Linked DNA regions of Homo sapiens. The protein of the gene in region 1 purifies or fractionates together with the protein of each later gene. This does not show direct contact. Each region holds a gene or a part of one and is shown on either strand. Other genes may lie near its edges. The genes, in order: SEMA4D and PTPRC.

Evidence for each region.
Region 2: the proteins of SEMA4D (region 1) and PTPRC purify together in Homo sapiens (affinity purification with western blotting; 2 studies listed by BioGRID and IntAct, with this or other methods). This does not show direct contact.

The regions. Positions count from the first base shown.
Region 1 is NC_000009.12:89,374,843-89,390,122, reverse strand, and holds the end of SEMA4D (semaphorin-4D isoform 1 precursor), read left to right. Parts: intron 1-1,075; coding exon 1,076-1,251; intron 1,252-1,330; coding exon 1,331-1,487; intron 1,488-2,514; coding exon 2,515-2,737; intron 2,738-3,640; coding exon 3,641-3,756; intron 3,757-4,017; coding exon of another isoform or gene 4,018-4,176; exon of another isoform or gene 4,177-8,695; intron 8,696-8,776; coding exon 8,777-8,949; intron 8,950-9,024; coding exon 9,025-9,068; intron 9,069-10,493; coding exon 10,494-11,419; 3' UTR 11,420-12,888; downstream 12,889-15,280. UniProt on the Homo sapiens protein: Cell surface receptor for PLXNB1 and PLXNB2 that plays an important role in cell-cell signaling. Regulates GABAergic synapse development. Promotes the development of inhibitory synapses in a PLXNB1-dependent manner.
Region 2 is NC_000001.11:198,742,371-198,757,650, reverse strand, and holds the end of PTPRC (receptor-type tyrosine-protein phosphatase C isoform 1 precursor), read right to left. Parts: intron 13,598-15,280; coding exon 13,448-13,597; intron 9,543-13,447; coding exon 9,452-9,542; intron 8,236-9,451; coding exon 8,102-8,235; intron 7,160-8,101; coding exon 7,025-7,159; intron 5,403-7,024; coding exon 5,280-5,402; intron 5,058-5,279; coding exon 4,879-5,057; intron 3,383-4,878; coding exon 3,247-3,382; intron 1,746-3,246; coding exon 1,470-1,745; 3' UTR 175-1,469; downstream 1-174. UniProt on the Homo sapiens protein: Protein tyrosine-protein phosphatase required for T-cell activation through the antigen receptor. Acts as a positive regulator of T-cell coactivation upon binding to DPP4.

The DNA.
Region 1 (15,280 bases):
TGAGGGTTTGCAGCAGGATCAGTGAGCAGATTCAGCGATGCACAGAGCAGCCACCTCCACCCCCGACAAGTTTCTACAAGTCTTAGGCACACTGCTGTCATCCCCTCTGATCCCTTTTTTTTCCCCATACTTGTTTGAACTCCTGGACTAGGGTGGTTTGAGCTTAGGCCCCACAGCTCCTGCCTACCACGCAGGCACACATGAACCCTTCACCTGCTGCCCGTGACCTGAAAGCCACATGAGACCCCTGACGAAAAATGTGCTAGAAATTATTCTTTGCTAAAACATCAAGGAGGAAAATGAAGTCCTTTTATCAAAAAGAGAATTTGGGCTCCTGTAATCACACAGCAGAGATGAAGGGGGAACATTTTCCCTGTGTCCAAAATAAGTAAGGCTGCTTCTATTTCATATTCTTCTGCACTCAGGTTTTGTGGTTTCAGTATTTCTCTCCAGACCACACACAGTCATGTGTAGTTTATAATTGTGTCTTGGTCATCGGATCCCTGAAAAGCGTTTATAAAGAACTTAGGTTCAAAGCACTTTAGCAGATACTTTGGGTAGAAAGGAAGTGAAGGATCTATTCCTTTAAAGGGAGGAAGGTTCACACATTTGCCCAAGACAGGCTGCAGGGCCGGTGGCTGTCCCCTGGAAGGAGGCTGCCGCCACTTGCCCCACCCAGAGCATGTTCATTGATGGGCCCTATGTCAGGAAAGTCACACAATGCCAGGGGCCTTGGCAGTTGGAAGTGTGTGAGCACGGCAGCACCTCTGCGGTTGCAGGACTGAATGCTGGGCACAGGCAGGCATGGACGATCAAATGAGCTTTCAGTGAGAGGGCTTTTGTCCGTTTTGTTTTGTGTGTTAACCCAGGAGCGTTCTGGGATCCAAGCTGGAACCTGGACGTGGTGCTGCGGGCCACTCACATAATTGCGGCATCTGTCTCCTGTTGCCCGAGCTTTGTTTCAGTCAGGCACAGCCGCGCTGTGCTGGGCCATGGAGGGGTGCACCTCTGACCTTAGTGCTTGCTCACAGGGGATCCACTCTCGGCCCACCACGTCTTCTTGTTGGGGTTTTAGGGGGACCAGGGCGGCCTGAGGACCTTGCAGAAGAAATGGACCTCCTTCCTGAAAGCCCGACTCATCTGCTCCCGGCCAGACAGCGGCTTGGTCTTCAATGTGCTGCGGGATGTCTTCGTGCTCAGGTCCCCGGGCCTGAAGGTGCCTGTGTTCTATGCACTCTTCACCCCACAGCTGTAAGTGCCCTGGGTGGAGTCCCCCTCCTTGCTCCCTTGATGCCGCCAGGTGGTCCCGTCACCTCTTTCCCCTCCCCAGGAACAACGTGGGGCTGTCGGCAGTGTGCGCCTACAACCTGTCCACAGCCGAGGAGGTCTTCTCCCACGGGAAGTACATGCAGAGCACCACAGTGGAGCAGTCCCACACCAAGTGGGTGCGCTATAATGGCCCGGTACCCAAGCCGCGGCCTGGAGCGGTGAGCTGGGGCACTGGGGGCGGGCCGTGCTTTCCCTTCAAGGCCCAGGGCATGGAATCCAGTACAGGCACTGGGGCCTGCTCATGGGCTGGGTACCTGGCCACGCCAAGGCTCTCTGCATTGGGACAGGGACGGCCGATGAGCACAGCTCATCCTTCTTCCCTTTTGCATGTTACGTAACAGCCATTGCTACACTATTGCACAAACAAGAAGGCTGGGGCAGCTGTTTTGCACAATTAACATTGCATAACAATTAGGTCTGTTTCATTTTCAGTTTCTTACAGAGAAACACATGATTCCTTGGCAAAGGCCTCTGCACTGTCCACTAGTCAACAGGAGTCACATTTTTTCCTCCTAAATATAGTGAACTTTATGTAGAAATTGGGAATTTCCAGGCCGATTCCTTCCCTCACATGGGGAAATGGGTGTGACAGGCATGTGCACAGCCCTCTGTGGGGCTGTGACCTACATGGGGTGTCCTGGCCCTCAGAGTTCACTGCAGCACCAGCTCCCTCCCAAGGGCAGCTGTCCCTGACACCATCATGGCTCCTTCTATGCATAGCTTCGTAAAATGTGTTCACTCATGGTCACAGATTTTGGTTTACACACATCAGGGAGCTAGAACAGGAAAAAAGAATCCCTCAGGCTCTTATGCTATTTTAAATTGTCCTGGTTTTAGCCATGTTTAGCATTCTTTTCATGAGAAAGCTGCAAATCAGTGTTCTGTTTTTTAATTTCAAAAGCTCAATAAGTGTTTTTCACTTACAAATAGATAAAAATTCCTTCCCTGAGTATGTATCGTGAATGCAATTCTGTCTTGCAGATGTGTTTTATAACTGTGTCCTCTGCTGGCTGGGGAGAGGCCACCTTTCCTCATAGTAAAGTTATTCACTGCTACCCTCATTTCAAGGCATGCATTGTGTGGTTTCCAGGTTTTGCAGCCCCCCCTGCGTTGGCTGCTTGTGTGGAAGCACCCGTTGCGTGGTGGGACACGAGCACGTTAACAGCGGGGATTTTCTCCCTGCAGTGCATCGACAGCGAGGCACGGGCCGCCAACTACACCAGCTCCTTGAATTTGCCAGACAAGACGCTGCAGTTCGTTAAAGACCACCCTTTGATGGATGACTCGGTAACCCCAATAGACAACAGGCCCAGGTTAATCAAGAAAGATGTGAACTACACCCAGATCGTGGTGGACCGGACCCAGGCCCTGGATGGGACTGTCTATGATGTCATGTTTGTCAGCACAGGTGGGTTCCGAGGGCTTGGCAGGCTTGACAGTGACAGCACATCTGTGTCCTCTGGTAGGAAAACTGGGAAATCCAATTATTCTTTCGTGAGTAGTTCCATTGCCTCCCTCGAGGTGACCTGGGAGGTTTGTGGGAGCGTAAGAAGATTTCTGAGAAGTCACCACACCAGGTGGCTTTCAGATCTGGGACCACCAGGCTACTGGAGGTACTTGTTAAAAATAAAAATGCAAGTCCTGGCCTGTGGCTGGGCTGGGCTGGGGCAGAGGAGTACTGGCCGCCGAGGAGTTGGGGCAGTGCCCACGCAGGGGGCAGGTGTGAGCCACCTGGGAGGAGGCGTCAGCCTGGCGTTTCCTGACTGCTGGCAGAGGACCACGTCCCTGCTTCCTGGCCGAGGAGCCAGGTTTTAGATGTGCCCTGGCATGTGGACTCTGAAATAAGCACTTCTGGAACAGGGACAGGGGCCAGGAGCCACGGTGGCTGGCAGCGCATTGTGGCCTGCCCTTGGAGCCTCCCAGCCAACCTCACATGCCCCCTGTCCTCACCGCCTGCCTAGGGCACTTACCAGTGACACCCCGAGGGCTGGTGGAGCATGGGAGCCCCCTCATGTGGCACTTAGCCTCAAGTGTAATGTCGACTGTTGGTGAGGATTCTTGGGGTCAACCATGGAACAGTTTATTTTCCTTGGAAAAAAACTGGAATAACCCATAACACTTGGGTTTCCAGTTGTCTGTTTTGCCAAAGCCTTTTCCTTTTTTTGTTTCTAATGCGAAATCATCATTGTTTTCTAAGTATCTGTGGAGGGAATGACTTGAGAGTGAAGAGTGTGAAGTTTGCCGCTGTGGTCACTGTCCTTGGTTTCTGTGTCTGGGTTAGTGTCACTGACCTGTAGCTTTGGCCCTGCAGACCGGGGAGCTCTGCACAAAGCCATCAGCCTCGAGCACGCTGTTCACATCATCGAGGAGACCCAGCTCTTCCAGGACTTTGAGCCAGTCCAGACCCTGCTGCTGTCTTCAAAGAAGGTAAAGTGACGCAGGCAGCTGGACCGGGGGCTTCTCCGCTCGGTGGCTTTGATTCTAGGTGACAGGAGAGTTGGCAAGCTGGAGTCGGGCTCCTGGGCAGGCCCCTCTGTCTGTCTGCCCTGGGTGAGCCAACCTTCAGAGTTTGACACAGAGCCATTCCGTGAGCTGTGGGATCTGAATTGGGGAAGGCAGGAAGGCAGACCTGGGGAGACGGGACTTTCTCTTCGAAGTTGCTGGAATGTCATTGAGTTGTTGGTGCAGCTTTACAGGCTGTGGAGAGGTGGGCACTGCTCCATGAAGACACCTTTTTATGCCCTGAGCTTGGGGGGTGTGCAGACTGCATCTGTGGGATATGATAGTGATACAGCTGACTCGTCACCGTGGAAAATCCACAAGAGAAGTGGTTCGTCTCATCTGTAAAGCTGTCTCCACCTGTGGCTGAGACTCTGGTCTGGCCTGCAATACTCCCAAGCAGCCCTTGGCAGGGGTGGGTGGGCGGGCATCCACGCTGGCCTTTAGGGGGCTGCCTCCCTGGCCCTGGCTCCTAACGGGACCTCCAACCACCTTGTGGGATCCAGGCCCAGTCAGTCCTCTCCTCCCTCAGCTGGGAGCAACAGGCAGAGGAAGAGGGCCCCTGTCTGGCCGGGTAAGATACCTACCCTTGGCAGGTGCGTATTTGCAAACACCCCTCCAGGTCTTCTGTCCTCTTCCCTCCCCTGTATCCACAAAGCTTGGGAGCCTGGGTCCTTTTACGTGGTCACCTCCCCTCTGCTAATGGAGAGTTCTCCCTCAGATCTGAAAGGAAAAGAGAATGAAATAGCCTGAGCAAGTTATAAGCCACTGGGTACTGGCATCTGTTCACCAGCCTCTCGGTCTCCAGGACACAAAGGGAGCCCTGGAGATTTGAAGGGTCGACGCTTTAGCCACTGTGGGGCCTCACCCCAGCCTCGTTGTTGAAAGAAGGGGACCCAGAAGCTCTTCTGGGGCCATCGTGCTGTTCAGTGGCCTCAGCCAGACTGGGCAGGCACCTACAACATCTCTAAAATGTGGACTTCTCATTAGAATGAAGATTGGGCCCCTGGTGTGGACATTCGTGAGAATGACACTCTGTTCCAAGGGTCACTTAGGGACCCAGGCTGGTGGAGGCTTCCAGGGCACATGGGCACTGATCCTCAAAGGCAGAAGGGGGTAGGAAGAGGAGGGCCGCACAGAGGGGGTTACGGGTCAGTGCCCACCCGCCATCTCCCAGAACTCGGTCACATGGCCACACCAGGGCAGCTGGCCACACAGGGAGCCTCGCGCCCAGGAGGAGGAGCCAGTGGGTTTGGGGAAGCGCTTGCTGGTCCTACTGGACCACCCGACCCGCCTGTCTCTGTAGGAGCCTCCATTCGTGGGGACGTGGCTTAGTTGCCTGGACAAGCGGAAATACATCCTGCCTGCCGTGGGGTCCTGTGCCTTCTCCTTGGGCCTCAGTAGGCTCCAGGTGGGGGTGGAAGGCCCAGCTCCATGGCCATGGCAGCAGGAAGTGGCTGTTCAGTGGTAAAAAGACTGTGCCGCCTGACCCCATCAGGCTCTCTCACGGTGATCAGCAAATGGAGAAACGGCCAGTACCACGCCCTCCCCCTGTCCTACAGCTGGGGAGGTGCGCTGTGCCTCCACCCTCACCTCCTCTCCCCTGATGACAAGCATGGGGTTTTGCTTTTTATTTTGGTAAATACACATCAGATGAAATTTGCCGTCTTAACCATTTTTCATTGTGCACGTCAGTGGCATTAAGAACATTCACGTTGTTTTGCAGCCATTACCACTGTCTGTCTGCAGGGTGCTTTTCATCTTCCCAAACAGAAGCTTTTTACCTGTGAAATACAAACTCTTCATTTTCCCCTCCTCCAGCCCTGGGCAGCCGCCATTCTGCTTTCTGTTTCTGTCTGGGTACCTCATATGAGTGGAATCACACAGTATTTATCCATTTGTAACTGGCTTATTTCACTTAACATAAAGTCCTCAAGGTTCCTCCCTGCTGTAGCAGGGGTCAGGGTTTTCCAAGGCTACATACTCCTCTGTCGTATGTGAATACCGCATTTTGTGAGTCCCGCATTTTGTGTGTGCGTTCATCCCTTGATGGACACGGTTGCTCCCACCTTCTGGCTTCTGTGAACAGTGCTGCTGTGAACGTGGGTGTGCAGATACCTCAAGTCCTTGCTTTCCATTCCTTGGGCGCACACAGCAGATGCGGTTTGCTCGGCCCTCTCTGAGCCCACCGAGTAGGCTGTGTCTGTATTTTCACCAGGACTCCTTGGGATGCTGAGCTACAGCTAGCGTGGCAGAGGGCAAGGAAGGCACTTAGACAGCTCAGTTGCCTCTGATCACGTCCACCGTCACTCCAACCTGCCCTCGGGGTCTGACGCGCACACACAGCAGCAGAGACAGAGATGGGAGCATGAGAGCTGCCTGCAAGGGGACAATCCTCAGGCCCAGGGAAGGCGGAGACAGGGGGCGTCGAGGGGCAGGAGTGCACAGGACAGGCTTGCTCTCAGCGGGCCTCACTCATGCTGCCAGGTGCCTGGTCAGGCTTTTTTTCTTTGCCTTTAAAAATTTTGTCTTGAAATAATTTTAAATTTACAGAAGAGTTTTGATGATTGCACAGAAGGATCTTGAGCGCCCCCACCTAGCTCCACATGTCCGATGTCTCACATAGCCAGTGTGCATTTATCTGAGCCAAGGTGCTGTCATGGTGCAGTGCGTTACCTGAACCCCAGACCCTGGACCCTCCTACCTCCCGCCCACCACATTCCTGGCTCAGCACCTCAGGTTGCACTGGACACTGCATCTCCTCGGCTTCTGCTCTGTTCCTGCCTCCCTGACCTCAGCACTCCTGGAGAGGAGTAGTCTGGTGTTTTGTGGTGTGTCTGGTGTATTCTTGTGATTATCTTGGGGTCGTGGTTTTAGGGGGAGCACCAAAGAGGGCGCTTTCTGGGGATGGGGCATCTGTATGACTCGCACCAGCGTGATGACCTTGGTCATTCTGTCCAAGTCACCACCGTCTTTTTCCATGTCGAGTGTGTCGGGGCATGTAGTCCACACTGGGGGTGGGGGAGAGTGAGCCCCACCTCCCAGGGGAGTCATGTGGGAAACCCCCACAGTCATTCATGCTTATTTGCAGGGACAGACTTGGAGGCTACAGAAATGCCCTGTTCTCCCACCCACTGACATCCACATCGACCAGTGGGTCCTGCCTGCAGCAGTTACAGCTGGCTGTCCTGACGACCAGTTCCTCCTTCCCTGTCCCCTCTTCCCTTCCACAGTCATCCCTTGGTCTCTGTGTGGCGTCGTTTAGTTTTTACAGCTTAGTTTCATTTGGGCTGCAGCCCAGCCCCATCCGGGAGAAGCGGAAGCTGGGGCTGAGTCTCCCGCAGGGTGCAGGAGGTGGTCTGGATCCCCTTGGGACAGGCCTTGCCCCCCAGAGCCCACCCCACCCTCCACAGCTACCCTCAAGCCTCTCTTTGGGGTGAGGAGTCAGGCGGGCCCCACTTGGCCACCCAGGGCACCCTGCTCTGCACTGCATGGTGTTCACGCCACCTCGCAGGTGCCCCCCGCGGGACCCAACAGGACCAGCTGTCCCTTGGAAGTTACCCAGCTTGGCTTTGCTGCCAGAGAATGTTTCCGCCACCTCCACAAGCCGCGCGATGCCCGAACTGTGATCTGGGATGTCATCCTCAATCCTTCCCACAAACGTGGCTCACACATGGCCTCATCTGCCCAGGTCTCTGCTGCTGCTGCTGCTGTGAGGCCAGCGGCGGGCCAGGTTCCCTCTGCTGTGTATTATCACAGTTTCCATCCTTGGGGGCTTTCCCTTTCTCTCGTGGGTCTGTGTCCGCACAGCTGGATGTGTGGCCTGGGGCTTCCTGTATTGGCATCAGGGCCTGTGATCTTCCAACCACACTCTGAAGTTGACTCCGAGCGTATCCTCTGAGGATGAAGGTCGTGTTTCATCTGACTGTAAACCACTAAGTCATGTGTAAATTTGGGAATCTTGTATTGTTAACCAAAAGGTGTCCCCAGGCTGTTGAGGCAGATGCCCTGGGCAGAGGCTAGAGAGCGCGCTCCACGGGCCACCTCCAGGTCTGTTGCACGCCCCCGAGCTTCAGGTGGGTGCACTGCATGTGGGGCACCCTCCTTCCAGCTGAGTTCCGTTCAAAAGCAGTCAGCAGCCCTGGATGCCTGTGTGCTGGGCACTGCTGGTGCCAGGTGGGCTGATGGGATGGACCTGAAGCTGGTGTCACTGGGAACCAAGTGTCCCAGAAGGTGGGAGAGTCTCACCTGCCCTCTGCTGTGGGTGTGGCTGCTCTGGAGCTCGGAGGTTGACTTCCCGTCTGTGAGCTCTTCCCTTTTACATATAGATAAGTGAAAAGCAAAAGGCATTGTTCCTTTTTTATGTTTTGTATCACGATCTCCTCATCCTTTGCATGTCGTCCGTTTGGCATCCCTGTTATGTTAGGCCTCTGCTGGATCCAGACCCTCACGAGAGGCTCCCCGCCCACAGGTGCTCACATTCTGGCTCGGGGGACGAGGTTGGGCTTCGAGGTGGTGTGCTTCAGCCTCTGGCTGCAGCCCCTTCTCACCTATAGTGAGGCCGGGAAGATGACCGGGAGTGCCAGGCTCATGCATCCTCTGCTGCAGGGAGGAGATCTGGAGGTGGGGACTGAACAGCCTCCCCACTGGCTAAGAGAAACACGTGCAGAGAAGCGCTTTGCTGGAGGGCAGGCACCTGTGGGTGCCCAGACAGGGGAGAGAGGGATTTGGACCTAAGGCCCAGTGAGCCCTGACATAGCACGTGGATTCTGCAGGAAGGTCACAGACCTGCCTTGTTTGCCTCTGGTTCTGAGTACCTCTCCTCCTTACTGCAATGTCCCCTGAAGGTACACTCTGGCTGCTTCCCACACACTGGTGCAGAAGCAGAGGCCATGCTCCTGGATGCCTGCTTGCCTGATGCTAGTTCTTCTCTGTCTCATACACGCAGGGCAACAGGTTTGTCTATGCTGGCTCTAACTCGGGCGTGGTCCAGGCCCCGCTGGCCTTCTGTGGGAAGCACGGCACCTGCGAGGACTGTGTGCTGGCGCGGGACCCCTACTGCGCCTGGAGCCCGCCCACAGCGACCTGCGTGGCTCTGCACCAGACCGAGAGCCCCAGCAGGTATGGGGCGGGATGCGCTGCCTGGGGATGTCCCCCATGTGTGTGGGTGAATAACACGTGCCGGTTGTTTTGCAGGGGTTTGATTCAGGAGATGAGCGGCGATGCTTCTGTGTGCCCGGGTGAGTGACTCCTCGACGTCCCATTTCCTTTGGGAGTGGCGAGGTCTTGTAGCCATTTCACGGTGCTTCAGTTCTGTGGCATTTGTGTGTGTTTTGTTTTTCTTTCTCCACTCGGAACAGAGGTCAAGTGTTCTGTAGCAGACTCGTGGTCTTCTCTGTCTTTTTTTCTTGCCGAAAGAGTACTTGAAGCCACTTAGAGTGTATCTGCTTACTGGGAAGCAGTCTCCTTCCAAAACCATCCTGTTTTCTTTCTGCTTAGCTTGGGGCTCATTAAGCAAAACCTAAGCCTGTTATAAATGGGGAGAAAGGAGCCCATGAGTGATTAATCCTCAGGCAGTGTAAGGGCTGGGGTGGTGTTTCCCCTGGGGCTCCCACCTGGGATTCACCCGCCTGTGGATGTCTGAAATAGCACCACACCCAGAGGGAGGGGTGGCATCAGGCCAGATGCCCCTTCCCCAGCAGCCACCTTCCAGGGTGCTAAAGGCAGACTTGACCCTCAGTTCTGTGTCTTCCTGACCCTGACAAGACAGCTGTCATCAGACTAAGAAAGGTTTAGGCAGCTGGGCATGGTGGTACACGCCTGTAGTCCCAGCTACTAGGGAGGCTGAGGCAGGAGGATTGCTTGTGCCCAGGGGTTCAAGGCTCAGTGAGCTTATCATGCCACTGCACTCCAGCCTGGGGTGACAAAGTGAGACCCAGACTCTAAAAAGAAAACAAAAGCTGGCCGGGCACAGTGGCTCATGCCTGTAATCCCAGCATTTTGGGAGTCTGAGGCAAGAGGATCACTTGAGCTCAGGAGTTCGAGACTACCCTGGGCAACGTGGTGAGACCCTGTCTCTACAAAAAATACAAAAATTAGCCAGGCCTGGAGGTGGTCACCTGTAGTCCCAGCTACTCTGGAGACTGAGGTGGGAAGATCCCTTGAGCTGGGGGGGTTGAAGCTGCAGTGAGCTGTGATTGCACCACTGCACTCCAGCCTGGGCAACAGAGCCAGACCCTGTTTCAAAAAAAAGAAAAAAAAGAAAAGTTTAGGCAGGAGGAGAGTGCTGAGATGCACTGAAAGGCCAGTCTTCCTTGCAGCCATTAGCAGAAGCGTCTCGTGTCTGATTCAAAGAGCTGACACTAGGCACAGAACTGGCCTCTGCTCAGCTTCCCCAGCCTGACGCGTTTTCTTCTGGGACACGGGTGAGAAATGGGATTTCTGCTGCTCAGAGCTGCCTCCAATTTCTTTGTCCCCATGGGCTGTCATCCAGGGCTCATCTTTGCTTTTTGGTCACGCATGTCTTTATCTCCTTAGTTGTTCTGGAAGATTCCATGTTGCTACAGTGGGTGAAACTCTTGCGTCATCTTGTGGGTATTTTAAAGAAGTTGTTAAATAGCAAATGGGGATTGTTGACGCTGTGCACGTTTATTTTGATGTTCCAGATAAAAGTAAAGGAAGTTACCGGCAGCATTTTTTCAAGCACGGTGGCACAGCGGAACTGAAATGCTCCCAAAAATCCAACCTGGCCCGGGTCTTTTGGAAGTTCCAGAATGGCGTGTTGAAGGCCGAGAGCCCCAAGTACGGTCTTATGGGCAGAAAAAACTTGCTCATCTTCAACTTGTCAGAAGGAGACAGTGGGGTGTACCAGTGCCTGTCAGAGGAGAGGGTTAAGAACAAAACGGTCTTCCAAGTGGTCGCCAAGCACGTCCTGGAAGTGAAGGTGGTTCCAAAGCCCGTAGTGGCCCCCACCTTGTCAGTTGTTCAGACAGAAGGTAGTAGGATTGCCACCAAAGTGTTGGTGGCATCCACCCAAGGGTCTTCTCCCCCAACCCCAGCCGTGCAGGCCACCTCCTCCGGGGCCATCACCCTTCCTCCCAAGCCTGCGCCCACCGGCACATCCTGCGAACCAAAGATCGTCATCAACACGGTCCCCCAGCTCCACTCGGAGAAAACCATGTATCTTAAGTCCAGCGACAACCGCCTCCTCATGTCCCTCTTCCTCTTCTTCTTTGTTCTCTTCCTCTGCCTCTTTTTCTACAACTGCTATAAGGGATACCTGCCCAGACAGTGCTTGAAATTCCGCTCGGCCCTACTAATTGGGAAGAAGAAGCCCAAGTCAGATTTCTGTGACCGTGAGCAGAGCCTGAAGGAGACGTTAGTAGAGCCAGGGAGCTTCTCCCAGCAGAATGGGGAGCACCCCAAGCCAGCCCTGGACACCGGCTATGAGACCGAGCAAGACACCATCACCAGCAAAGTCCCCACGGATAGGGAGGACTCACAGAGGATCGACGACCTTTCTGCCAGGGACAAGCCCTTTGACGTCAAGTGTGAGCTGAAGTTCGCTGACTCAGACGCAGATGGAGACTGAGGCCGGCTGTGCATCCCCGCTGGTGCCTCGGCTGCGACGTGTCCAGGCGTGGAGAGTTTTGTGTTTCTCCTGTTCAGTATCCGAGTCTCGTGCAGTGCTGCGTAGGTTAGCCCGCATCGTGCAGACAACCTCAGTCCTCTTGTCTATTTTCTCTTGGGTTGAGCCTGTGACTTGGTTTCTCTTTGTCCTTTTGGAAAAATGACAAGCATTGCATCCCAGTCTTGTGTTCCGAAGTCAGTCGGAGTACTTGAAGAAGGCCCACGGGCGGCACGGAGTTCCTGAGCCCTTTCTGTAGTGGGGGAAAGGTGGCTGGACCTCTGTTGGCTGAGAAGAGCATCCCTTCAGCTTCCCCTCCCCGTAGCAGCCACTAAAAGATTATTTAATTCCAGATTGGAAATGACATTTTAGTTTATCAGATTGGTAACTTATCGCCTGTTGTCCAGATTGGCACGAACCTTTTCTTCCACTTAATTATTTTTTTAGGATTTTGCTTTGATTGTGTTTATGTCATGGGTCATTTTTTTTTAGTTACAGAAGCAGTTGTGTTAATATTTAGAAGAAGATGTATATCTTCCAGATTTTGTTATATATTTGGCATAAAATACGGCTTACGTTGCTTAAGATTCTCAGGGATAAACTTCCTTTTGCTAAATGCATTCTTTCTGCTTTTAGAAATGTAGACATAAACACTCCCCGGAGCCCACTCACCTTTTTTCTTTTTCTTTTTTTTTTTTTAACTTTATTCCTTGAGGGAAGCATTGTTTTTGGAGAGATTTTCTTTCTGTACTTCGTTTTACTTTTCTTTTTTTTTAACTTTTACTCTCTCGAAGAAGAGGACCTTCCCACATCCACGAGGTGGGTTTTGAGCAAGGGAAGGTAGCCTGGATGAGCTGAGTGGAGCCAGGCTGGCCCAGAGCTGAGATGGGAGTGCGGTACAATCTGGAGCCCACAGCTGTCGGTCAGAACCTCCTGTGAGACAGATGGAACCTTCACAAGGGCGCCTTTGGTTCTCTGAACATCTCCTTTCTCTTCTTGCTTCAATTGCTTACCCACTGCCTGCCCAGACTTTCTATCCAGCCTCACTGAGCTGCCCACTACTGGAAGGGAACTGGGCCTCGGTGGCCGGGGCCGCGAGCTGTGACCACAGCACCCTCAAGCATACGGCGCTGTTCCTGCCACTGTCCTGAAGATGTGAATGGGTGGTACGATTTCAACACTGGTTAATTTCACACTCCATCTCCCCGCTTTGTAAATACCCATCGGGAAGAGACTTTTTTTCCATGGTGAAGAGCAATAAACTCTGGATGTTTGTGCGCGTGTGTGGACAGTCTTATCTTCCAGCATGATAGGATTTGACCATTTTGGTGTAAACATTTGTGTTTTATAAGATTTACCTTGTTTTTATTTTTCTACTTTGAATTGTATACATTTGGAAAGTACCCAAATAAATGAGAAGCTTCTATCCTTGATTTGGGGAAGACATTCCTTAGCGGAGGCTGTGCAGCCTCCCGCCCCTGCATGGCCCAGGCGGGACAGCTGGGCTCGCTCTTTTCTGTCCGTTTCCTGCTGTGTTTTGCCCTCTCTGGCCTGTGACGTGCTCCTGGCGACTTCTTCCTCAGTGCCCTCTCTTTTCTGTCCTCTCTGTCTCACAGCCTCGTCTCCTAAGCCCCTCCCTCCTCCTGGCTCCTCTTCCCTGTCCTGTCTGGGCCATGTGGGGGACAGGAGGCTTTCCTCTCCCTGGACCCCCTGGCCAGCCTCGGGTGCGGGGCCCGACAGCAGCTCGAGGGTCTCCTTGCTGCCGCCCTTCCTGAGTGACCAGGCACAGCACGTGCACGCCCTGGGGAACTTCTACCTCTTCTGCCAGGCCACAGGTGAGTTGGGCCCTCTCTGTCCCCTGTGCCCTGTCCATCTGTCTCCTCCCACAGGTGGGGGGCGGGCGGGGGCATCCTCCACATCCCTCCACATGTTCCTTTACCTTCCTTATCTGTCCTGGCTGCGTCCCTCGGGTTGAGCCGTTTCACGCTTTCATTGTGGGTCCATCCCGAGGGAAACTGTAGACAGTGTGAAGCCACTTCTAGTGTACAGGGGTCAACCAGTGTTTTCTGTAAAGGGCTAGATATTTAGGCCTTGTGGGCTGCAGGCTGTGTCACAGCCACTAAGCTCTGCTGTTGTATTGTAAAACCAGCCATAGTCAATACACAACGAGTGGTCAGGGCTGTGTGCCAGTAAAACTTTATTTATAAAAATGCACGGTGGGCCAGATTTGCCCCAAAGGCCCCAGTTTCCCAACCTGTGGTATATAGGATTGCTTCTCCCTTAAAAAAAAAAAAAATTTCAAGAGACAGGGTCTCCCTCTGTCACCAAGGCTGGAGTGCAGTGACACAATCATAGCTCACTGCAGCCCCTGCCTCCTGGGCTTAAGCCATCCTCCTGCCTCAGCCTCCAGAGCCAGAGTGCTTCTATTTCTGCTAACAATTTGGAGGTTGATATACGTGGTATTTGGAAATTTTAAAAAATTAAGAGCTTCCAGAATGGGAGTTGTTTTAATGACTTGCTTCGTGGTATTTAAAAGCGGAAAAGATTGGCGGGCATAATCCCCCTGCTTTGGGAGGCCAAGGCAGGAGGATTGCTTGAAGCCAGGAGTTTCACAGCAGCTTGAGCAACATAGCGAGACCTGATCTCTACCCAAAAATGTGAAAAAAACTAACCAGGCTTGGTGGCACGTGCCTTGAGGATTGTTTGAGCCCAGGAGTTTGAGGTTACAGTAAGGTATGATGGTGCCACTGCACTCCAGCCTAGATCACAGAACAAGACCCTGTCTCAAAAATCATCATCATTATAAAAACAGAAAAGATTGAGAGTCTAGTGTACTCCTCTGGGACCTGGAGGCATTTGCCCTGGATTGGAAAATACTCGGATGGGATATCTGCTCTTGAAAGATAGTAGATGTCCAGAACCACACTTCAAAGATGTATCCTGTGCTTCAGGCAGTGCGTGGTAGCCCTGGTGGCCCCTGTGTTGTCATCTGACTGATCAGTAGATACAGAAAGAAAGGAAGTGGCCTGTTAGAGCCTGCCCCGGGGGAGGGATGAAGTTAATGAAGAGGAAAAGCAAACCCAATTGCTCTCTTTTTAAACATGTTAAACACACTGTCAGTAGCTCCTGAGAGTTTTAAGGTGCTGCCCTCTCCTGTTAAACAAGCTCTGAGAGCCCCAGGTGGCCCATGTCTGCTGAGGCCAGAATGTCCCTTGGCAGCCAGCACTGGACAGGAGAAGCTGCCGGTGAGCATGGAGCACTGTGGAGACGGAGCTTTGCTAGGCTGGCTTGTGTGGTTCCTGCCCTCCACTGGGTGCTACGGACCAAGGCTGTGCTGAGCCCCCTGTGGCCGCTCTCACAGCTGAATGGTGCTCCTCGGCCAGCTAGTTTGCCTTGGTGCAGGCATCCCAGAGGACTTCATGTCTCCATGGAGACTGTGTCCTGTCGCAGCACTGGGGTCCTTCAGGCAGACTCAGGAAGCTCCTCCTCGGTGGGGAGGCTGGGAAGCGGGCGGGTCTCTATGAACTGGCCGTGGACCCAGGGCTCCTTTGCGGGCAGATGCAGGCAGGCTGTATGGTCAGGCAATGTTGGTTGGTTATTTATTTATTTATTTTTGAGGCAGAGTCTTGCTCTGTTGCCCAGGCTGGAGTGCAGTGGCACGATCTTGGCTCACTGCAAGCTTCGCCTCCCAGGATCAAGCGATCCTCCTGCATCAGCCCCCCTAGTAGCTGGGATTACAGGCACACCTCACCATGCCCAGCTAATTTTTGTATTTTTAGTAGAGACAGGGTTTCGCCATCTTGGCCAGGCTGGTCTCAAACTACT
Region 2 (15,280 bases), on another chromosome or scaffold:
TATGTTACAATAGTGAAATAATTAGAAGTAGGGACACAAAATAAATGTGAGTTGAATGGACAATAATCGGTGCTGTATAGTTAAGACATATAAAATCAGACAAAAGAGTAAAGATATAGAAAACCAAACCAATCTAAAGGTTGTGTTTGACCTTCATGATAAGCTATTACAGAATTCACCAAAACGAGTTTTTATTACTTCATGAAAAATACCACTATTCTTGATTTTTTTTTTCTAGATCTTAAACAATTATTAGACTATTGGATAATTGGGGCCTGTAAAAGTGTCCTGCAAATGTTAATAAATGCATTAAACATATTTCAATAGGTGCATACACATTTCATATTTGAACATATAACACAATGTATTATAAACAAGAAAAAAATAATGGTTGAATTTTATTATGATTAGCGACATCCATTCCTGGTAAAAACATTCTAAGCATTGGAGAAATTCAAAGTAAATGCTTTAATGAAAGTTATGAATGGGATTTAACATGGGAACTATGCATATGCAATATCATATTTTTCATATCAATGAAAAATTCCATAAAAATAGCTATATTAAATTTCATATGTAAATATTTAACAAATATGTTTGTATTCTTCTATTTTTATACAATGAATATTAATACATATTGCATTTATTTATTTTAATGACATTTATTTAAGTTCAATTGTACAAAACCTAATTTGTTGTCAAAAGTATCAAGCAATAAATTTTAAATATTGTACAGGGAATAATCGAGCATGCAAAATTGAAAACCCCATGTAAAGACAGCATGATAAGCTCACTGGAAATTTTTTAATTAAATAAGCTTAAAAAGACATTGGACTAAATGCTAATATATGGAATATAAGATTTCCCAATGTTAATTTAGTTAACAACTTTTTTGTAGTAGCATACACACACATACCACCTTTATGTACTATCTCTAGAAGTAAAATAGTAAACTATATAAGATAGATATATATGAGTAGAACAAGGAGGACATCTTGAGGTCATTTCAGAAATGTACATGATTTTATTGAGTCTGCACACAGTTTATGATTTTTAAAAACAGATCCTTCAAGCTAAGTTAACACTTCTAATATAAAATGTATTTTTTCTTCATAAAAACAAAGGAAAAGCAAAAGCTTTTAGATTCACTTGAAAGAATTCTCTCTCTTTCTCTGTCTCTCACACAAACACACACCCATACACACATACATATACACACATAACGATTACAAAGAAGTTGTTTTTTACTGAATAAGAGATAAAATTTTAAAATAAGCATACGTCTGTACAAACTGTTCTGGCAAAACTATCTTAAATATTTTTCCACAGTAGTAAAATATAACCCTTCTACAAATATTGGTTCGCTGCATTTAATTAATCCACTGTATACCTATTTTCACTTCCTACTTCTACAAAAATAGAAATAACAGCTAACAGGAGGTTTGGAGTTTCCTCATTTATGTCTTTTCCTATGAACCTTGATTTAAAGCTGGACTTGCAGGACCATTGACAGAATGTTCTGGCCCCTCAGTGCCACTCGTGGGTTCAGAACCTTCAGCCTGTTCCTTTGCTTCAGGGAGCTTTTCTGGGGCACCAAGTGGATTAACACAATTAGCATCCTGCTTTACTTTGTCCACTTCATTATCAAATTCAATTTTATCTTCTTGATGGTTGTTTTTCTTTACTTGTCCATTCTGAGCAGGGTAGGTGCTGGCAATGACGTCATATAGGAATTGATATTGCTCCTAGTAAAGGAATTAAGTGGGAAATTACATGAAGAAAGTTGATGTCATTATTTTTATGCCAGATGAAGATTAGCAAGAACTAATGATTTATTTGTGGAAGTATTGGATGACAGAAAAGTACTTTTTGATATGTTCTCATAAAAACATCTAAATAATTTAGTTTCTTTATGGTGCTAAAGGGTTGACTGCAGGATACTTTTTGAACTTTACCTTGGAGCAACCCCAAACCAGTGTTCACTCCGCTCATGGGCCATTTCCATGCCTTTGCTCATGATGCCACGTTTTGTACTTATCCTCCTGTCTAATGCCTACACATTATTTAAGAATCAGGGCAGGAATCACTGCTTCGAGAAGCGTTTCTTGATTCCTAAAGTTTAAATTAAATGCCCTCATTCATGTTCTTCTTATAATTTTTCTGTCATTTTACTCACTACATTGATTAGTAAATACCTGGCTTTCCCTCATACCAATTAGCTCTTTATAGCAAGAGCACATAGCAAGCATTTGATACATTTTTAAGTACCAAGATATGAAATCTCAATATCATACATGATTAAAAGCTTTATATATTTTAGTGAGTAATTAAGTTTACACTGTGAATAAGGATTAATTCCCAGATGACCATCTACAGTTACTACCACATAGAGGGTATACACGATAGATCGATTACAAGAATATAAAACTTATTTTCCTTCCTGTATCCACATTTCTTTGCAATGTGAATTTGCAGGCCCTCTCAAGAAGTGGAGTCTATTTCCCTACCCCTTGAATCTGGGCAGGCTTTATGACTTATTTATTTGGCTAATAACATACAGAAGAAGACATGTGTGTCACTTTTAAGCCTGGGCCTCAAGTGGTCTCACACAAGTCTTCTTTCCCTTGTGGAACTTGCTGCTTTAATGTGAATAGGCCTGGGCTAGTCTTCTGGATGAGGAGGGACATGTGGCCCACTCACTGTTGTTGCCATAGCTAAATGGCAGCCACATGCCAGCCTACTGGCAGTGTAGGTCACTTTAGACCAGCCAAACTGTAGGGCACACATCAGCTGAAGGCAGACACATGAGTCAGCCTGGTCTCTATTGCCTGAGCCTGAGGGCACCAGCAGAACATTCCAGCATATCATTAGACTACTGAACCATAATAAATGTTATTTGTTTAGGCTCCCAAATTTGGGGGTGGTTTGTTACACAACACAAATCGATACAGGAGTGAAGGAAAGAAAATTAAGAAATTCATGAGCATTTAGGGAAAGGCTCTTCATGAACTGTCACAACAAAGTGCTAGTAAACTTTAGGCTCTTATTTAGACTTATAATAATTTAATGTGAATTATCATGTAAAAGTAGAAAAGCTAAAAGAATAGGAAAGAAAATAGAGAAGAGAAAAGGAAAGGGGAAAAAAGAACAAACGAGAGGAAAGGAGAGGAGAAAAGAAAAAAGGAAACCGTCAAAAAGAAAAAAAAAATTCCGAGCATGTTAAAAGCAATGGTGAAGGATACTTACGAATGTGGAAACCATGCCTGGCCTAGCTTTGCGTAGAGCTTTTACCACTTGAAAAATATCCACTACCTCTTCTGTTTCCGCACTTTCTAAGAGATTTAACAAAGCACAAAATATTCCCGTTTGCTGAGATCCATCCCTATAAAAGAAAGAAAAGATAGAAAATAATCCTACTTCTCACCAAAAAGGGTGATATTAGAATAAAAACAGGAAGAGAGAGAATATATTTTTTGCTTCATGTTTATCATAATTATCTTATTCCAACCTCTTTCAAGAACCAAATTATTTACGCTAAATGCATTTTTAGGCAAATTTTTCAATTTAAGAGTGTGATAATCCTGGAATTGAAAACTTATTTGTCTTCGACTTTACAAATATATTTTCTTTTATTTAGTATTTTATGGATTTTAATGCATTTTTATTTACATCTGAAGTTGTTGAAACCAATATCAGAATGCCAGTATGATAGATAAGGAAACCAAGATTTGGAGAAGAGAAAGCTGATGTAATCAGAAATATTAGACCTAATATTTTGTAAATTACTAGAACACATGCTCTTCTTCACTCTTCTGCCTCTCTACCACGTTTCACAAATGTTTTCACTTCTGCATCAGTAGAAAAGTAATACCTAGTAGAATTATTCACTAAAAAGAGGGCAATCAAATAGTTTACCAAACAATGAGAAGTATAAAGCATTATCATAAAGATTCAATTTAAACAATATGTTATCAGCAGGACACTTTAGTTATTGTACATAAATCATATTCTAAGAAACATATATAGTTTTACAGTGTAAACTTCCCTTCCTCAGCTTTCTTTCCACATAAATGCTGAAAATTCATATATTTCTTAAGGCTTGATTCTAGTATATGCAATTCCAATAATAACAATTAGACTTTTTCAAAAATTCCAAAAGTTTTTCACTAGATAAACATTTCTCATTTTACTTTACTATTTTTCGTTTCTCATTTACTTCAATATTCTTTTTCATGTAAACTTTTATATTATATATCTTTCTTTCAATTATATTGCTTATTTAAGGTGAATATGTAAGCACCTATCACAGATGAAGAAACTAATAAAATCTAGTAGTATTATTGATATTACCACAATCTTTGCCTTTGGTTCAGTTTAGAAAATTAAATAATGAGTTTCAAATCAAAATTGCTAAGCTTTGTGATTTCAGTTAATATTTAACTTAAAATATGTTTAATAAACTTTGTGTTCATTAAACATATTAGGTGTCTTTGTGACACCTAATAGAGTAGATCAATGTATATGGGTATATGTGTAAGGTGATACCCATCTACCTATCTGTTCACACACCCTTCCATTCATTAATTCATTCACACAAATGACATTCCTGGCTCAATGTTAGCTACCAAGGAATCAAAGATGACATGACACCAAGTATTAAAAAACACAACTTAAAATTATTGCACTATAATATAATCACTTCTATTATATTTCTACAATAGTTGTGTTGTGGAAACAACCAAGAGAGTGACCGACTCCATAAGAAGTTTTTACTGTGGTTATGTGTTTCATATATGAGGATAACTAGATAAGACAACATGTGAACCGAGAAGTCAAGCATTATGATTTTGAGAGCACATTCTACCAAATCCCACGCACCTGCAGTGAATGAGTAGAGGTGTACTCTTGTGATGCTTGTTCCCTTCAGAGGAATTCTTCTGGGGAAGTTTTTGTTTGACGACCTGAATCATAGAGATTAATTCCTTGGGTTCTGCAGGAAGCTGCTCCACACTCCAGTTTGTATATTGGTACTGGTACACAGTTCGAGAGTCTTTCCTCTAAAATCAGAATTGAAGAGAGCATTAACTGGAGTGAAGTTCAGCTTATTTTCTAATTTGATAGTCATATTTTCTTCACAGTTACTTCTATTTAAATAATTTTAAAATGTTATTCTGAAACATTATTTATATGATGGCCTTGCCTGCATAGAGTAATTTATATTCATTTTGCTACCAGATCCATTATATCAAAGAAATATACTCCCCAAATTGTTTCCATACCTTGGAATGTCTCAGTTCAAAGACACGAAGGGTATAAGTTGAAGATTTGTCTGTGTCTTTCAGGTCAACTTCAATATCTCCATATGTTTGCTTTCCTTCTCCCCAGTACTGAGCACAGATTTCCTAGATAAAAGAAGACAATTCAACAATTTGTTTCCTATTTGAAATATGCAAAGGATCAGTCTCCCTCTTTCTCCCTTTCTTTCTCTGTCTGTGCCTCTTTTCTATTAAATGAAAATTATTGTGTTCTAAAATTGAAACCTACTTATAAAAATCCAGAATCTATTTAAGTGCTGGCGACCCATTTAATAAATATGTGGTGTTTCCTTGTGTAAGAAAAGGGAAGCTGAGCACAATCGAGGTGACTGGGACACCCCCGGAACAGCTGTTTTCCTTAGTGTAGGTCTTTGAGGTTTGCTCCTCTTTTCCACATGCTTATCATGACCTCTTCAATATTTATGGCTGGCATGAGTCAATGTTATTCATGACCCTTTCAATAACTCAGGTCCCACTGTCCCTTCAGTGGTTCTTGAGGAAGGAGGCTGCATCTTTTGGAGCTTTGTCTCTGTCATCTTGTTGACCAACACCATAAGCAGCTTTATATATTTTGTCTACATAGCTAAGGAAAGGGCCAGATTGAAGAGTAGATGAACCACAAAAGTGTTTCTTCTTACTACAAACTGTTGTCTACCAACTACAACCCCACAATTTCTGACAAAGACAGGGAGTCCTGCCGGTACTTCCATCCTGTTTCCCAGCTTTCACAATTTATATGAAGGAAAGGATTGTGGGAATTCCATGCTAGAAATCTGGACTTATATTCCTTTAAAACAAAAAACATAAAAAGCAACTTTCCATGTACAGGGGAAGGGGACCAGGTGAGGGTGAGAAAGAGTGAGATTTAGGGGAGAGAGAGGGGCATAAAAAAGCATAAATCTTTTGCATACTTATAAGGTTATTCACTGAATAGGCTTGAACATATGTCAGATAATGTGGTTGGTGCTAAAGCTGAGTGAGATCTACCACCAGGGAAATTTTAATAATAACTGAAGACATTAAGAAAAGGATAAAATATCTGTCACAAGCATTAAGTAAAAAAATCAAATTATAGCTTAGATTCACCTTCAACTATAGACTTTTATGGCAATAAATATTATATGGGAATAAAGAAAGGATGATATAGATACATTTTTCAGGAGTTTGGTCTTGTTAAAAGAATAGGGTCAAAACTGGAAGACAGCACACATTTAGTTACATGGAATATCAATAAGTTTAGACTCAGTGATGACAATGCAAATGGCGTGTTTAGGCTTGGGCATGAAACCTGCTTGTCCAGAGTGGAGAGGATGGAAAACATAAAAATGGGAGGAAGATGAAAGACACATGAGGGGGTGATTGTCCAGGGTGCTGGATATCACAAAAAGATCTTGGCTTTTATCTTGAGAAAATGAGGAAAACAGCGTGAAAATGTAGCTGTTATTTGCTGTGACGCTGACATTGCTGCATCCTGGCTAATCTGTGAGCAGCATGCAAGACTGGAGGGGACAAACAGGAGAGACTGTCAGAATCCAGACACAGCTGATGGAGGCCAACACCAGGGTGAAAGGGGTAAGACTGAGCAGACAGAATTATGTGATGGAGGGATAAAAAAAGACGTGGGTATGGCGATGAAGCAAGCAATCCAAGACTAGAGAATGACGTTTTATGACAGAAAGGCTTAAAAGAAAATCCTCAAAAGTACAAACCTGGTCTCCATGTTTCAGTTCTGTCAGCATAACAATAACTTTGACTTTTCTTTGGAAGATCATCTGCCAAAAGTCACCAATGGTCTCCTTCAGTGGTCCCTGAGCAGCAATCATCACTTCAGGTTTCCAGTAGCTCTTTTTAGACAAAAAAAGGGTGGGACTTCGTTACTACAGAAGAGAGCTCAGTAGATTCTTAAAGTAACCATTTGGAAATATAGTCAGTTTGATATCAATGCTGTTACATACAAATAGTAATATTCTTATGTTTCTTACAAGAAACAATGTAATAGCTATATGTAAAATAATTATACAGATAATAGTAATTCTTAGCTAATAATGTGAAATCAAGATTACAACATATCTTGCGAAACAAATTTTCCTTTCCACAAAAGACACACATTTTTGTTTCTCTATAAAGGTTAATGTGATTGTAAAAAGGAATTACTTAAGCATTTCAAATTACCTTCATCGTGTCTATACTAATTTTAATTAGTGTCTTTACATTCTTATTATATTTCCTAATTAAACTAATATTCTATGAATGTGTGCTTTAGGAAACTTTGGAAAATAAGTAAATCCAACAGTGTATAAATAATAAATATTTAATAAATGACTAAAGTTTCATTGTTTGAATTCTCAGTTAATTAAAAAAGTGGGGGGATATGACACAGACTCACCTAATAATTCAGTTTATCTGAATGAAAAGTTTCTAACCATACAAATATACAAATTTGTCATTGCCTACAATTTGGGTATCTGAGTATGTATAAACATTTTCAAATACTTGTATTTGCTCAAATTTTACTATTTTTAAAATTGATGTGATTATAGCTATATTTGTCATAAAATATAACCAATAGCATTATCTTATTTTGTCTCAGGTTATTAGGTTATAGTATTTTTAAATCTTTCATTAAGTTAAATTGTAGCATTGAAATTGAAACTCTCATGTCAATCTATATGTAGTTATGACCAAGCTCATTATTCTTTTATAAAATCGCTTAATGAATGGCCCTAATAACATAGATATTATTTTAAAATGTTTGGATCTTGGGTTTTGGCAATTTAAGTACCTACCATTATAAAAGATGCATTGATGTATTTGCTTGGTTCCTCTGAATCACTGTCATCATCAGAGGATTCATCTGAATCATGCTCACTCTCTTTACTCATTTCCAGCTCATGTTTAAGTGGCACTCTGTTATAGTCATCTATGTGAAATAAATCAGTAGTAAGTCTTCCTTGAAAAAATTAAATTTCTTCTTCATTGTCATGTGGAAATTTGAAAGTATTTAAAAAGGGACAGATTGTATTATGAAAACTTACTGATCTACATGAAATAAGATCCTATATAAAATTCAGTACTTGTCGATAAACAAATTATACAACAAAAGTCTAAGAAAAAGGATTCCAGGAAAAAACATGGAACATAATTCCATGTCAAACAACAAAGAGATATCATATCATTATATATGATTATTTAATCTTTGATACATATACTTTAATTTCCCATGGACTATTATAATTCTGCTTGATATAAGTTTACAAAATACATAGCGTAGATTTTTTCCCTCAATTATACTCCAGTAATATTAAATTAACAATCTTATATGGGTAGCTTTGATTAATTATTTAGCCCAGAAAATTATTTGACCTATAATTTCTCACTGTTTCTTAATTTCTATAATTTATAATAACTTGGTCAAATGATTTGATTAACCATATCACCATCAATTCCATATTTTAAACTACATTCATAAGGACTCCTATGAAAATTAACTAGGTCAACCATGCACTGATCTGATTTATTTGGTCATCTAATTTATCAACTTGTGTTATATTTTATCCATGCTAATTTTAGTTTATGCAGCTGAATAAAATTACCATATGTGATCATTTTAATATGCTTAAATAGTAGAATTCAAGTATTGAAACTGTGCATATTTTGATCTGTTAAATTTGAAGATTTAGAATTTATAGAGTATTTTCCCCTTACTTTCAACCTCCCAGTTATAAGGGATAAAAAGGAAACATATAGAGAACAAATGGATGTAATTTTTACTATTTGTCAATTACCCTGGAGTAAATAACTGAAATAAACTAAAAATGAAAGAAAATGGGTAAAAGAGACTTGCTCTTTTTTCTCCCAGCTTTATATATTTCTCTTTTATGACAACCCATTTCTGAAATAATTGGTAAAAAGAAAACACTGAATACAGTCTACCCTCCAAAGCCCATTGTAAATGTTCAGGATTATAAGTTCTTGCAATAACTAGTATTTTAATACCTAGTAACTTCTTCCCTATTAACAACCAAATGTTGAAAACTTGCTTCAAGATAATTTATATGACTGTGTGTCCCACATTAAACAAATCCAAAAGAGCTTAACTTTATCTGATACAAAAAATAAAAAAATAAACTACATACATGGGATGACATTAGAATTCCTGTTTTTACTTTTATTTTCTTCTTGATTTCCAATGTGCTGTGTCCTCCAGCTCCTATATGAAGGAAGTCTCTGAAAAAAAAAAAAAAAACAGAAAAACTCCTTTAAAATGTAAATATTGGCTTATTGCATCATAAGATGCTCCCTAAGGAAAAGCATTTCATTAATTTTTGTGAAATTTGCATATGCTCCCTATAGGCCATAATTTTTCGGTTTGCCTCTGATTTTTTTTCTTTAAATTGCTCAGGCATTTAGTCCTTTTGACAGGGCTAGTATGCACTAAAGATATATATGTAACAGACTATGTCTCCTTCTTCAGAGCTGCTTGATAGAAAAATAATATAGTTTGTTCTTATATAAATTGAAACCACTAGACCGATGTTGATCTATATTGCAAAAGCAATGGTAAGTTATTTTAAATGATCAGAAATAAACTTTGGAGACAACACATTCTTAGGAGACTTGGCACATGTTTTGAAAGTTCATTCTTAATTTGTTTACACCTTCCAGATTGCTTTCCTCTCACCCACAGTTCCTAATTAGTCAGAAAAGATCCATCATTTCTATACACAAATCCTTTTAGTTTTCTTTCTTCCTACTTAATCCAGTCTGCCTTCATTTCTCGCTTGTAAAACATCAACAATTTCCTAACTGGCCTCTTTGTCTTCAATCTCGCCTGCTCTAATCCTTCTAAAACACAAAACAGAAGATGCTCTTCTGAAGATGAACAGCTTTCCATCACTATAAGAGGACAACAAACCTCCTCAAAATAGCATAAAAAGTCTTTATTGATACGCCCCTGACTGTTTCTCCAGCCTTACACCTTACTGGGTCCCTCAATACTTCTACCAAACCAGCTTCCTCAATTCTTGGAAGGGCCAAGCTGTTCTTCAACTCTTGGCACATAAACACTTTTTTTTTTTTTTCTTGCTTGAACTACCCTTTCCCCTTTTGGTTGCTCTAATAACTTTTCTTACCCTCTAGGTATCAGTTTAAATACCAATTTCTTCTGGAAGACACCCCTGCCTACAGTCTTTCCACTAGTCCTTAAATAAGTATTTGTCAAGTGAATAATATTTAATGATAATAGATAATGTTACAAATAACTGAAACTGAGAAGGCTCCTCATGTACAATTCGGTAAGATTTTATATACACACACACGCATGTAGATACGTGTGTGTATATAGACATATATTTTTTCAGCATAGTACCCTCATTCAAACTAATTATGGCACCCTGTTTCAAACCTCATTCTTTGCTACGTAATTGAGTGAAAGAAAATATCATCACTGAATTTTAGGCCACTTGAACACCACCATGAGCTGCATGAAGGACCAGATGTTTTGGAAACTGTTACAACACCTTGTGCTCTTGTGAGTGTAGTCACCGAGGCAGCCTATGCCCTGTAGCAATACTCAGGATTATAGGTGGAATTAATGGCTCACCTTCATCTAAGACACAAAGGATCTGTCACTCTTAAATCTCTACCTGTTTCACTTGCCATCACAAGTCTAAGCTTCCCAGTGCATCCACATTCCCCAGATTTTTATTCCTGAATGGTTATTTGTATCCTCAGATACAACCCAGTCTCTTACATCTAACCCATCAGTGCCTTCCTCCCTGCCCTCTGATGCCCATCGTCTGTCATCTGTGAACTCCCATTTATCTTAATCATCTTCTCCCAACAGTCACTTCACCCTTTTTTTTTTCTTTCCACCAATTAAAACCTGGATGTCAGCTAAGGACACCACCAATAACTCAGCAGCCCTTTTAAGAAAAAGTTGACTTTCCTCCTCACACCCCATTTACCTCACAGCTTCAAGAAAAGATACGTGTTCTCCTTGATCCCTGATTCTACTTGCAAACCATTTCTACTCATTTGCTTTCAAATCAACCAAGCACTTTGATATTCCTGCCATCATACTATACTAGCTTCTATCCACCGGCTTCACTGGGAAGTGTCAGGTATTGATTTCTGAATCACTCCACCTCATTTAGTTTTAGGCTTGGCTAAGTATATTCTCTTCTTTCCAAGGTCTGTCATCATTTTTGGTTAATTCAACATTGACAAGAATAATCTATCCAAGACTCTAGTCTCTTCATTTCTTAGCTTCTTCACCTCCCATGACTTTCCCTCCACTTCCCAGTCATCCACTTTCATCATTCCACCTTTGTAGGTTTCATTCCAAATATTACATCACCTCTAAAATCATAAGTTCAACTATCTGTGCTATTGAAAATTACCCCTATTATTCCTAGTCATTTATTCTGATATGTTCAACCTAGCAATCTGTAATTCTATCAAAGTCTCCAACTTATTATCCTTACTACTTTCTCTCACCTCCCTCATGTGGCCAATTTGCTTTTTATTTTCCACCTCAGTCATCATTCATTTGTAAACACCCTCAACTCGTTTGCCTCACTATTTTCAAATAGTCACTTTTCAAAACCTAGATAGGTTTAACTCAACTATCTGCATACACAGCCTCTACCCCCAAAGAGCTCAATGCTGCCATAGAAAACAATACAACCAACTGACTAATTCCTCTTTAAACTTATAATCATAAATTTCAGGTGATCAAATGATAACTTCTGGCAATCTTACTGCCTCTGCCTAGGGAGATTGTTTTTATACTTTGAGGTAACTAGTTTATACCCTTCAAGCATTGAGCTCTTCTTTGCCCTACTCGCCCTTGTATCTCTCAACTCTCAACTGATGACCTAGCCTCACATTTTCTTGAAAAATGAAAGATCATCAGGCAAGAGCTGCCTCAACTTCCCAATACCAAATTTACCAACCGACTTGCATTTCTACTCTCATCTTCTGTCTTACTGTCTGCTTAAATGGAATAATTTCACAGCTTCCATCTGTGATCTGGATCACATCCTCTCATCCTTCTTCCCATGTCCACTTGCAGATCATTTTGACTCTTGTGCCTAGAATTGTACTTGGCACATAGCAGAAACTCAAGCACATTTATTTAGTGAAAAAAATTGTCTGTCTTTTCTATAGTAAATAAACATTCATAAGAATGTTTAACTTAAATGTATAACTGTCTCTAACAGCTTATGTGTTTATGTGGATTAGTAGGGCAGGTATATTGAATAAGGTTAATTTATCAGCTAGAAAAGCAAGAAAACAACAATAAAACACTACTCTGTTTGAGACTACCCTGTGTCTGCTAGTTCTTCCATTATAAGTACAGGTCTTCTGGGGGATTGAGTCACTTGGTCATTATTGCATGCTCCACCTCCACCCCCACCTTAACCCCACTTTGATCCTAAACATTAAATGGTTCTGCATGTGATTAAAAGCACACTCCTGGTCTTTAGAAACTCTGAATTTACCAGTTTGGTAGATTATGGAATGACTCAGTAACCTGGAAATCATAGGTGGAACAAAAAAAACACAAAACATTTTTTTGACAACTGAGCAATTTGAGGACAGCTATGCAAACTCTCTGAAATTATAGTGAACTACATGCTAGGTTAGCTGTGAGAATAATTGCCTAATAAATAGGTTAAGACACATGTACTTATCCTTTACTGTGTGTCTACCAGCTCCAGCCAGTTCAACTTCCTAAGCAGTCATAAACTCTTCTAATGATTTCCTTTACAAACCAAAACCAGATACGATTTTTAAAGGTGATATGCTGTATTGCCTTTGGCAGACCAGTTTTGTGGCTATATACTATTATTTTGACACTTCATTTTATACCAGCTTAATGAGGAATGGCTAAAAGTATTAGCAATAGAATCAGATTTCTGGGTCTAAAGAAATCTCCTATGTAATAGTTGTGTAGATTCAGGCATTTCTCTTAACTCACTGTGTCCTAGTTTTCTCATCTGTGCTCCTTTGGTTCTGGTGAAGACTAAATGCAAGCACTATGTCAAGTGCATAGCAAACACCTAGAAAGTAGATGACACTGAATAAAAGTTATCTGTAATTATTATTATTGTTGTCACTATCATTACCTGGAATTCAGCCTCTAGTGGAGACGGCTCACTGGGTGGATCCCTTTTCTTCATGTTATGTAGATATGGATGTAATTCAGACAAATTCACTTCTGTTTCTCCAAACTGATTGTATTCCACCAAAGCCTGATGGATCAAGATGTACTGGGCCTACAATTTCAAGAACAAATACAGATAGTTAACTGATAATCTAGAGTCCTCCAAGTCATATTTAAATAAAATATACATTCCCCATAAATTTGCTCATATTGGAACAATTCATGGCAAAGTAAATTGATATCTATAATATTTAAATATTCTGGAAGTTCACTCTCAGAGTTTTCTGGAATATGAGCAAATTCTATTTTCAGATTATTTTTTCAGAAAAGAATTACTTTGCAAATAGATTATCCATGTACTCTGTATTGCACAACTTTTATTCCTAAAAACTAAAGAACATTGTATGTTACTTCCTTTAGTGATTATTGGGTCAGTAAGCCAAATTACTGAATGTAAAACTATAATAAATTTCACAGTATATTCAAGAGATAAAAAAGCAAGTTGTTATTCCTTAGAAAACCTTTTTTTATAGTTTTTAGAACTTAAAATAAGAAAAGTATTCTTTTAATAAGAAAATTATTTTTTTGTAATCCAATGGGCCAAACCCAGATTTAACTACTCTTTACTGCTTATTTTGTTTGAATCCAGTATTTTCAAGGAAATGGTATACTTCTGATAATCCTCTTTAACCGCCACCTTTAGTTCCCTGAGTTTGGCACTGTCTTTCCACTGTACTTTATTTTCCACTGTAAATAATTTCTTTTTACCTGGTTAACAATTTGTTTTTATGTTTCTACACTGCTATCTATGTATCTGTAATCACAAGCATTGTACATTTTCATGTTTTTTTTAAATCACATAAATTATATCTTGAATGTTTCGTATGGCAGCTTTACTCACTCATTGTTTTCATCTGAGCATCTCTCCAAACAGACAGACACAAACCTAGATCATTGCTTTCTACCACAACATAGCATTTGTTGTACAGAGAGTTCACATGTCCACATTTTGTCTTCCTATTCCCCTATTGATACATATTTACGGTGTTTCCATTCTTTCATTGATATGTATTTCACTTTTTTTTTTTTTTTTTTTTTGCTATTTTGACAATGCTGAATGCAATGCACATTCTTGCAAATGTTTCTAGTTGATGCTTCTCTTGGGTATATGCATATATGTGATTTTGCTGGGTCAAATACAGACATTTTCAGTAATTACCATCACTTACAATCACCAAATGCATAGCATGGGCCAGGGACTTGTTTAAGTGCTTTATTTGTATTACTTTTGTGGTTATAAGTCTGTGAGGTATTATCATTGTCTCCATTTTACAGATGACTTAACTGAGGTGCAGTCAGACTAAAATTACTTAATAAACAATACCACTCACCCTCGTATTAATAATTAAAAGCAAGATTTGAAACCTGTAAGTGTAGTTTCTAAAACCAGCTGTTGATTACTATACTATTCTGTCTCTTCAGTTTAATTTTATGAGATGATGCCAAATCTATTTTCAGCATTTTTACTTTTTTTGCCAATCTGATATATGTTAACAGTAGTTCATTATTTTAAAAATTATATATTTTGTGGTCATCTTTCTTCCACAGTACTTTTAGGCACTAATGAAAAATGCTTCTAAGTATTTCTGGTGATTACCACGTTTTAGTTTTCAGGAAATCATCTACTGTTTGAGGTTGTGAAGAATTTGGATTTTTAAAAAATATCATTATTATCACTTGGAAAAGATTTAAGTCCAAAAAACCAAAGTGAGAATAATCACTAAAGGTTAGAACA